2 separate regions of the Homo sapiens genome follow, and region 2 is linked to region 1. The links come from fine-mapping of genetic effects on gene expression. A gene starts in region 1. The other region holds a variant in brackets. All regions are shown on one strand. Distances are from middle to middle.

What was found.
Region 2: its variant is fine-mapped to the expression of INPP5D in whole blood (TOPMed, PIP above 0.99).

What each region holds. Positions count from the first base shown.
Region 1 is chr2:233,057,639-233,063,002 of GRCh38, reverse strand. It overlaps INPP5D (inositol polyphosphate-5-phosphatase D), which reads right to left and starts at 2,661. Exons shown (of 27, transcript NM_001017915.3): 1 at 2,391-2,661. The coding sequence starts at 2,524. RefSeq lists enhancers at 1-336, 337-930, 2,017-2,106, 2,707-2,986 and silencers at 307-356, 2,427-2,506.
Region 2 is chr2:233,166,285-233,171,648 of GRCh38, reverse strand. It overlaps INPP5D (inositol polyphosphate-5-phosphatase D), which reads right to left. Exons shown (of 27, transcript NM_001017915.3): 14 at 2,248-2,344; 15 at 1,485-1,623; 16 at 1,045-1,153; 17 at 497-585. Among named protein-coding and RNA genes, the nearest start is that of ATG16L1, 83 kb to the left of the region's middle. The variant GT/T (reference allele first, on the strand shown) is at 2,238.

The DNA of each region.
Region 1 (5,364 bases):
CTGGCTTTTTTTTTTTTAATGCCCTTCCTGCCTCTTTTGGTGTCAAAGGCTGCTTTCTTTCAAGAAATGAGGTGTTGGAAGATGACAGTTTGTTATCATTCATTTAATTAGTTTTTAGTTTTAAAATCTCCGTAATTGGCAAAATCCAGGGTGGCAGCCATATGAAGCCTGCAGATGTATGGAAAGTCTGCAGGTCCATAGCAACCCACGGCCTACAGTGGAGCCTGACCCTGCAGGAAGGGAAGCTTCCCACCCTGAGCAGAGGAGAAAGGGAAACACTGAGCCCAGGGTTTGTCTGGCCAAGGGGTGGGACTCCTGGTGTTTGCAGCCCAGCAGCCTCAGGATAGGAGGCTGACGAGGCTTCGGCTGAGAGGATAGTGGACATCTGTAGGCACCACAGGTCCCTCTCTAAGGAGCAGACACTGCACACCCATCATGACTCTGAGAGAACTCAGTGCAGACAAGGGTTCAGAGAGAAGAGGTAGAGGAAGGAATACGAGAACTGGCCTGGATCCCAGCAGTTTTGACCCCAGCCAGCATGGTGGACAAAGGCCTCAGGCTCTCTGCCCTCTGTCTACCTCCTGAAAAGCCAGGGCTGTTGCACCAGAGCTTCTCCAAGGCCTCTCCAGCTCTGACTCTGGCTCAGGCTAATCCTAGACGTTAAGATGCTCACGGCTCGGAGTCAGAGAGACCCACGCCCCATGTCTGTAACCTGAGCAACCACAAAGCAAGCCCTGGTCAAAGGGCTGTGTTGAAGGTTAATGAGATGGGGCCCTGGAAGCCCTCGGCTCAGCCAACACCAAACAGCCAGGACAAGATCCCACTGGGCCAGGAGAGAAATCCAAGTAACCCACATGGGCCAGGTGGAGTCAGACTGGGCTTGTGAGAGGCCTAAGAGAATCTTCCTGCTCCTTCTAAGGCCCCGGCAGCAGCAGGTCCCCACTGGGGAAGTCCAGGCAGCCTGGGCCTGCGTTCCTTCCCCTGAGGCATGAGAGAGGGGACACAGGAAACCAGTCTTTGGAGGTGGGGCTGCAGACTGTCAGCACAGGCCAGCGACCAGCTGCGAGCCTGGCTTGGTTTCCAGTGCCCCAGCTGACCCTGTAAACACTGTGGCTCCCCTTGCTTCTTTCTCCAGCCCTGCAAGGCTACATGCCTGCCCCGCTGGACTGGGAGCAGGAGAGGTTGGGCCACAGGCTGCTGGTCTCAGCTGCAGCCTCTGGGGGCAGATGGCCGTGGCTTTGACTGTTGTCACTCACTTAACCTGCCAGGGCCTCAGATTTCTCATCTGCAAAGTGGGGCTTTTAACAGGACCTTCACTTTAGGTTGTGGTGAGGATGAAATGGGCTAACAAATGCTTAGCACGACAGGTCCCAGCTGTGAGTCAGTATTCAAAACAGGTCTGGGTTCATCACCCAATTCCCCTCCTGCCTGGAGAAGCACAAGGCCCTGGCTGCTCGGGGGAACATTTCTGCCAGCCCAGGGATGCTACTTGAGATGTTCAGGTGGACACACATTTCCCTGACTACACTCCGGCACTGCCTGAGGCCCCGGCAAAATGATTAGACCAAGAGCTGCAGGGCAAGGCCCCCCTATGATTAGACCGAGAGCTGCAGGGCAAGGGCCTCCTTCAGACGCTGGACAGGAAGGGGGTTTTAGAAAGGAACCTTCAGCAAGTGGCTGGTTCCTCCATTGTTAGCACAGCTGGTACATTCAGTAACATCCCCAACCGGGCAGTGGGAGGAGTTGATGGTGACAGAGACCCAAATTGAGGGGGTGGGGGGTGGGCAGCGGTCACAGCCAAGTGCTCAGGAGAGAGAAGAGGCTGCTCGCTGGTGGTAATGGTGACTTCCTCTGCTCTCAGGCCCCTGAAAGCAGCTTCTGACTGAATGGAAAGTCCTTTCTTGATTAAACTCACCCCATATTCTTGGCTCGCCAAACAACAGCTTCCTCCAGGGGCCCGAAGCCTGGGTGCTCCAGGAAGGGTCCCCCTTGCCACCTTTGCTCTTCTCAGGGTTTCTGAGCTGGGCATCTTTGAGCTGATCTCTAACACACCCACCTCCACAGAGCCCTGAGCTTCCTCCTGGCTCCAAAAGCCCAAACTCCCTTCTCTCGGTCCCCAGACTCCAAGGAAGCCACAAGGTCCATACAGCTCATGGGAAGCTGGGGTGTAACATCAGGCCTCAGAGTGGTTCTGACAGCTCCAAGGCTGCAAAACCTGCCATGAGACCAGCTCTCTGAACTCCAAGGACAAGGTCCATGACAGGGTGGCGGGGAAGTGTGCATGTCAGATCACTCTGTCCTGTGACATAAGAACAACCCATCTCAAAGCTGGGCCCCCTCTAAGCCCCTCTGTCATATCTGTGCCCGGGGAGGGAGCAGGTTGTACTCACAGCACGCAGAGCGCGTATGCCCGGGAGATGGACTCGCTGGCACGCACGAGGAAGCTCCCGTCCTTGCCTGTCCTGGAAAGCAGCTCCTCCGCCTTGGAGCGGGTGATGTTGCCATGGTTCCAGCAGGGGACCATGGTGGGCGTGGGCCTCCTCGGCCGGGCCGGCAGGCACCCCCAGGACCCACACACCACCGAGGGGAGCGGAGGCCCCTCCACTGCAACCTGCCGCCCGTTGCCTCTTGGTGGCCTCGGCTGCTGCCACCAGCTTAACTGACTGACTTCCTGTTTCAGGCGCTCAGTGAGGGAAAGGAAACTGAGCTGCGGAGAACTTCCTCATTACAGAAACCAAGCAAGAGAGAGAGAGAGAAAGAGAGAGAGGGGGGGGCCCTGGCCGTCCACCGTCCCCTACACCCTGCCACGGCTGCCGCGGCTCTCTTGCCAGCCCTCTCCTTCCTGGCAACTGGTCGCAGCGTACAATTGAAGTGTCCAGTGGCAGCTGAAGTCCCCCTGGGTGGAATGACCGGCTCTGGAGACGTCAGGAGAGTTGTGGCCACTTCTGAAGAAGCATGGCCTAGCAGGCATGGGTGGGCCAGAGAAGTGGTTCTTCTGCGGCCGTGCTGACACCCACGTGGGATGCCATGCCCTAGACAGGCCCCCGAGCCTTCTGCTCTCCCTCAGGGCTTTTCAGCACCCACCCTGAACCTCCAAAACACCCAAGGGGGCACAGCTTCTCAACTGGGACTACGGCCTGCCCAGGACAGAGCAAACTTGAGGGGGAGGGGACAGTCGAGCCCCACCCCTCCCCTTTAGAGACTCCCAGCGGCCTGGGTGCTGGGAGACCTTGGCTGCCACCAGCCGAGGGCGCCAAGGTCCAAGTGATGGCTCTGTGACCCCATTACCCTCATTCCCAGGGGCGGGTGGGTGCTGCACGGGCAGCACAGCTCTGATCCCTGCAGTCCAGCTTGGAGACACACAAAGGGAGCTTGGAGGGGATGTGGGCCGTTTACAGCGGGAACATAGGCTGGGTTTTTCCCTGGGCTTCTCCAGGATGCTGGGGAAACAAGCTCGGAGAGGAGAACCCCAAAGCCCCACAGGGCAGGCTGGCCGCCTGGCCAAGGACAACACTGGGTGCTGAGTCCTGCGTCTCAGCAGTCGGGGTGGCCGGTCGGACTGCACCGCCTCCAAGACTGGGCATGGCCACATATGCCCACCACTCAAAGAGGAGCTGCCTCTCCAGGGACCGCCATCCAGGACCAGTCATTTCTGAGGGCTCTGCGGTGGACACCCATCCCTCAGCCCCCAGACCTGGGCACCTTCCGTCCTTGGGTCCGGCCCACCAAGGCCGAAGGGGCACGTGTTGACCCGCTGCACAAAGAGTGCCCCCACCATCCCACATCCAGGCCTTGGCCTCCAGGACATGACAACAGACTCCCTCCAGGAAGGGGCACCAGCCAGGCAGCGCCACCACATTCAAGCTGTGGGAACCTGGTCAAGTTTCTTCTCTCTCTCGGCCTTGGTTTCTTCTTGTCTAACTTGAAGGACGTAGCTCGTAAAAGAGCTCACATGTGCCCAGGGGCTCAACATGTGTCACACTGATGGTTGTCCCAGAACAGGGCCCCCAGCACCTCCCCGCTGAGCAACACACATGGCAGGCGAGTCTGTAGGGCAGACAAAGCACTCCCAGTCAAGGACCTCTGGCCAGGCTGGGAGCCAGGCGTGGGGATAGAGTGGTGATGGGAACTGGCCTCCATGCTCCGGCCCTTCCGCAGCACGCCACCTCTGCAGCAGCCCAGTGTGGAGGCCTCTCATTCCCCACCCACGCCTCCACTCAGCACCTGTCCACCCCCTCCTTATGGGGTCATCTCCTATGCTCCCATTGTGTACCTTCACACCCTTCTCACTTCCCTGCTGGCCTCCACCAACATCCATGAAGTCCTGGACCACGCCACCAGGAGGATCCATTTGCAATACTGGTCCCTTTACACCTCCACCCACTCATCTCTAGAGACCCCTACCATGCCAAGACTGCCCTACTTAGAGAGCTTCCCCCAAACCCCCAGCCCCCCACCTCTCACACCTCTATTCCCACGGTCCTTGCCATTCCACAGAGTGAGATCCCCTGGCACACACGCCACACGGGCACTCTTCCCTCATTTTTAAGGCCCATCCCAACTTTGCTTCCTTTTCCACCCAATTGCCTGATCTATCCAGCATGGTCAGCTGGCTTGTCCCCCACCCTTCTGCCCTCCACATTCAGGAAATCCCAGTATCTAGATCAGAGCTGCCCTTTTGGTGGGTGGATTTTTTTTTTTTGTAGGTCTCCAGTCAATATAAATAATTTTAACGTATTACAAAATTCACAAACTCATGTGAGGGATAGTGATTTATCAATGAAGACTTCAAATAATGGCTAGAGAGTGGCCAGGCACAGTGGCTAACACCTGTAATCCCAGCACTTTGGGAGGCTGAGGGGAGTGGATCACCTGAGGTCAGGAGTTTGAGACCAGCCTGGCCAACATGGTGAAACCCTGTCTCTACTAAAAAAAAAAAAAAAAAAAATCAGGTGGGTGTGGTACGTGCCTATAATCGCAGCTACAGCTACTTTGGAGGCTGAGCAGGATAATCACTTGAACCCAGGAGGCGAAGATTGCAGTGAGTCGAGATCGTGCCACTGCACTCCAGCCTGGGTGATAGAGCGACACAGTAAAAAAAAAAAAAAATTACTGTTCCAAATTTTATAGCATAAAGGTAGAACCACACATCTTCCAGCCATATTCTCTTGAATGTGTTAGGCCATAATCACTGCATTCCTACCTTGAGATCCCATTTGATGATGATTGCACCCTGGCCCTCCACATACAAGAGCAGTCTCACTCTCCAGGGATGTCTGCCTGCATCTGGCTTGGCAGGATCAATGTGGAGAGCTCAGCATCACCACATGGATGGGAGGTGGGAGATGATGCTGATGGGAAGAG
Region 2 (5,364 bases), 110 kb before region 1:
CAAAACACTGTTCCTTGGAAAACAAGTGGCCTCATAAGACATTAATTGGTGTTCCATGAATAACTGAGTTTGGCATACAGATTTCCTCATGGAGAACCACAGTGCTCTTGGGCCCATAAAAGCTCTGATAAGTCCTGCAGCGAAGAAACCTGCTTAATGTTAATTCACTCAGCAGTTTAGTAAATATATTTGATCACGGGACTTTAAAAAAATGATCTTCAGAACCCAGTTAAGGAAATAATACTTTAAAGTCCTCTCAGCATCTTAGAGTATCTGGACAGAAGGTAAATCACAAGGGTTATTTTCCCAGCTCAAAGCAGTGCACAAGTGTGGCTTCCCATTTACTCTGTAACACAAATCAACATGTGCTTTCTAATTTTTTTCTTTCCTTTTTTTTTTGCCTAATGGATGAAGACACTTTCTGTTCACCTTTTGGGAACAGACACCAGCGGGGAGGAGATGGAGGGCAGGGAAGGTGTCTATGAAGAGGACTCACCCCTGTCGCTTTCTGCTTGGTGTAGGCGTATTTGTCCCGAGTCAGTCTCTCAAAACGGTAGGTTGGGGCAAACGTGATTTCTTCCTCCTCTGAAACAGAGAGACTTTCGTTTTAATTCTGATTCCCCAGGTTTTGCATCTGGCCAATTTTCCCTATTCTTCTGGTAGGAAATCAGGGGAAAGGGGACGAAAGGATGGCTGGAAAGGCTCCAAGAGGAGAGGCTGCTGCTTTTTTTTTTTTTTTTTTTGAGACGGAGTCTGTCTTTGTTGGCCAGGCTGGAGTGCAGTGGCGCGATCTTGGCTCACTGCAAGCTCTGCCTCCCTGGTTCACACCATCCTCCTGCCTCAGCCTCCCAAGTAGCTGGGACTACAGGCACCCGCCACCACACCCGGCTAATTTTTTGTATTTTTTTAAGTAGAGACGGGGTTTCACTGTGTTAGCCAGGATGGTCTCCATCTCCTGATCTCGTGATCCGCCCGCCTCGGCCTCCTAAAGTGCTGGGATTACAGGTGTGAGCCACCGCTCCCAGCCGGGGTTGCTGCTCTTACCGAAGTGTAGGAAGACCTTCTGCTCCCTCCTCTCTGTGAGCAGCTGGTCGTGGGACAGGAGGTCTGCGTACTGCTGCTGCTTGATTTTCTGGATGATGGTTTCTGCCTCCTGGAACAAGAACATGCCCGGGCCTCTGGTGAGAAGCCCTGCTGATCCAGGCCTGACAAGCTTCGGGGCTGGGGGCGGGCAGCTGGATGACCCGGGCTGCAGAGTGATGGTGGCAGGGTGGCTGTGACAGTTATGGGAACCGGGTGTGAGCACAGGGGAACCGTGAGGAGCGGCTGAGGCTCAGTAATGGAAACAGCGTTGAGCCCCCAAGGGGAGCAGCCGCCTCAGCCCACTTGATTCACATGTCTCCACGACCACCTGCCCCAAGCTGACTCAAGGGAGCCTCCATCTCATACAGCCCCAGCCCCAGCCCCAGGCGGGCAGCCCTTACCCAGGTAGGCAGATCCACACGGTAGTTAAGATCCCCAAACCAGAAGAGGTGCGTGAAGCGGTGAGTGATGTTAAAGGGACTCAGCTTCTTGTCGCCCAGGGCCAGGAACCGGAGAATGTTCATATAGTTTTGGTTTCGCCTAATGCAAGGAAAAAGCGGCCATCTAGCACGGGGTCACTGGTTCCCCCTCCACTGTGGCAGGAAGTCACTCCTGCCATAGGTGTGGGGCGAGGAGCATAGCAGGTGGGGGGAAGTGAGACTTAGCCCTCCAGCCCTGCTGCAGCAGAACTCCTTAGTGTGCAAATATGGCACAGCCAGGATGCAAAGGGCATTTGAGGCCACATTGGGTGTACAGAGGGCAGGGGACCAGGAGCAGCAGCATCTGCTCAGCAGAGAATCAGAACAGTGAAGATTCTAGATGGCTGTCTTCATTCCTGGGCCCCAGCTAGGCAAGATCAGCTTGGATTTGTAAGGAGGCCCCAGAGGAGGCTTTCTGCTTTAGAAACAGTGCTAGTTAGCGGTCCATCAGGCTAATGACACAAGGAAATATCTTTTCTGACCTTCAGACAAAATTCCTCCACACGTGAGGTCACTATGGTGCTGCAGTTGCCTTTGATGAGACTGTGGTGGGCCCTGAAAGGCCACAGGACATCCACAAGGTCAAAGGCAGGAGCTGAGCAGGTCCTTCTGGTGCTTAAAGGTGTGAGGCGTGTCTGGGCAGACAGCCCAAATGCACACTCTTGGGGGGAAGGA[GT/T]TCCATTACCTGAGTTTCTTTTCACTTCCTGAAGTCAAGTGGCTGTTGACGAACCCTAAGGAGGTTCCATTGAACATGAACGACACCCCCACGGCTCCCTTGTTCCCTAAAAAGAAGAGCAGAAAGAAGAATCAAAATATCAAACAGACACACTTGCCAAGGGGCCAGAAATCACCCGAAGGCAGGGTGAGAGGGGCAGTGAGTGAGGAGCTGGCAAGGGATGGGCGAAACAGGGTCGTGCAGGGTGGGAGCCGCTGGGCAGAGAGCGGGAGATGAGAAAATGCAGGAGCAGTGCAGATGGCGGCAGCCTCAGCCTTCTCGGCGGGGCAGAGGAAGGTGGCTGCTGCGATCCTCCCCCGGCATCTCTCTCTAAAGTGACCAGGGTGCTAAGCGGGCAGCCAGAAGCCCTGGGAAGATTCAGAAGGTTCCAGCCTGGGTGGGCTGATCTCCCTCCCAGTGAACTCAAGTTTCCTGGGGAGACCAAAAACCCACACTGAGATCATACCTTTTTCTGCCAACGTTCTGATCTATTCTAGGTCAGTGGTTCCCAAAGGGAGTTCCCTGGACCAGCAGCTGCACATCACCTGGGAACTTCATGGAAGGGCAGATTCTCAGCCCCACCCCAGACCTACTGAATCTGAAATCCTGGGATGGGGCCCAGTAATCTGTGTTTGACAAGCCCTCCAGTGTCAGGGGTGGGCAAATGCTGGCTCACTGCCAGCTACAAATGGTTTTACATTTGTAAATGGTTGGAAACAAATCAAAAGAAAAACCATCTTTTGTCATTCATGAAAATACGAAATTCAAATTTCAGTGTTCGTAAAGAACACGTTACTGGAACACAGCCATGCCTATTGACTTCTGGATTGTCTGTAGCTGCTTTCAGACTACGATGGCAGAGCTGAAGCATTGTGACAGTTGTGTGGCCCAAAGAGCCTAGAATATTCACCATCTGGCCTTCTATGGAAAACGCTTGTTAACCCCTGCTCTAGGTGATTCTGACACATGCAGGTGAGAACCTGCTCTGTCCAATACAGGCACAGGCCACATGTGACTATCAAACACCTGAAATGTGGCTGGTACAAAATGAGACAGGTTGTGAGTGTAAAATACACATTGGAATTGTGGCCTTGGTAAGAAACACAGACTGTAAAATATCTAATAACCTTTTACATTAAATATCTATTGAAATAATTGTATTTTGGATGTATGAAATTCAATAAAATCTATTATTGAAATTAATTTCACTTGTTTTCTTTTTAATGTGGCTACTAGAAAATTTGATCTATTGATTGTAATAAATCAAATTGTAATCTATTTTGATCATAAATCTATTTATTTATGATCTATTTGGCTCCCATCATTTTCTTTTCTTCCTTTCTTTCTTTTTTTTTTTTTTTTTTTTGGAGACAGAGTCTCACTCTGTCTCCCAGGCTGGAGTGCAGTGGCGCGATCTCTGCTTACTGCAACCTCCGTCTCCCAGGTTCAAGCAATTCTCCTGTCTCTGCCTCAGGAGTAGCTGGGACTACAGGCACCCACCACCACACCCAGCTAATTTTTTGTATTTTAGTAGAGACGAGGTTTCACCGTGTTGCCCAGGTTGGTCTCAAACTACTGAGCTCTGGCAATCTGCCTGCCTCAGCCTCCCAAAGTGCTAGGATTACAGGCGTGAGCCACGGCACCCGGCCCCATTTTCTTTTGGTTGGACAGCTCTGGATAGGCCATAGGCTGAAGGGACCCCTGGATATCACCTGGCTCAACCTTGTCAGGACCCAGTGGGGGAGTACACAGGCTTTCTGCCCTCCAGCCCTCTCCACTGCACCTAGCTCTCCAGCCCTGCCCCTCTGCCCGCAACCTGGGAGGGTGACCTGGAACTGAGCAACTGGTTCCAGTCCCGACAGCCTGGTTTCAATCCCTGCCCACCACATTCTTATCCCGGGGCCTTGGGCAAGTTATGGATCATCTCCATAGACTCTGTTTCTTCATCTGCAAATGGGAATAATAAGAGTCCCTGCCCGAGTGTTTGTATTTTTTTTTCTAATTTGAGACAAAGTCTGTGTCGCCCAGGCTGGAGTGCAGTGGCAAAATCATGGCTTTCTGTAGCCTTGACCTCCCAGATTTAAGTGATCCTCCCACCTCAGCCTCCTGAGTAGCTGGGCCCACAGGCATGCACTACTATGCCATTTTTTTTTTTTTTTTTTTTGTAGAAATGGTACCTTCCTATGTTGCCCAGGCTGGTCTCAAACTCCCGGTCTCAGGAGGTCCTCCCACCTTGGCCTCCCAAAGTGTGGGATTATAGGCATGAGCCATCGTGCCTAGCAGGGTGTTTATATCAAATGAGATGATTCAAAGCATTCAGCACACAGCCTTGCTTAGGGCACACTCTTAGAAAGGCCTTGGTTGTTCTAAGGACTTTTTTTTTTTTTTGAGATAGAGTCTCGCTCTGTCACCCAGGCTGGAGTGCAGTGGCATGATCTCAGCTCACTGCAACCTCCACCTCTCGGGTTCAAGCGATTCTCCTGCCTCAGCCTCCCAAGCAGCTGGGATTACAGGTGCGCACCACCACATCCAACTAATTTTTGTATTTTTAGTGGGATGGGATTTCACCATGTTGGCCAGGCTGGTCTCGAACTCCTGACTTCAAGTGATCCACCGGCCTCGGCCTTCCAAAGTGCTGGGATTACAGGCGTGAGCCTACCACACCGACCAGCATTTGCTGTTTCTGTCCTGTGCTAATTATGGCTGGGAGCCATTTCAGGGGAGTGGAGGAGGGAGGCTGGCCCCAGGGCAGAGAGGAGGGGAAGGAGGGGAAGGAGGGGAAGGTGTGTGTGAGCTGCACAGCCCAGAAGCTGCCCTGCAATGGTCATAAAGCTGGGACTCTGGCCAGGCCTTTCTCCTCACCCCTCAGATGCCAGTCGCACTGCCCTTCTCAGGGAGGCCCCTGACCTCTGCTCTCTGCCCACGCCACACACTCCTTCGCCAGTGCACTCCCTCCCAGGAACTGGCTTCTTTTCCTCCCGTCTGCTCATGCAATGTGTGTCAGGTCCACATGAGCAGAGCTCCTGCCTGCTCAGAAGCTGACCCAGTGCCCAGCCCTGAGGCCAGGATGACCAGGAACTGGTCTGG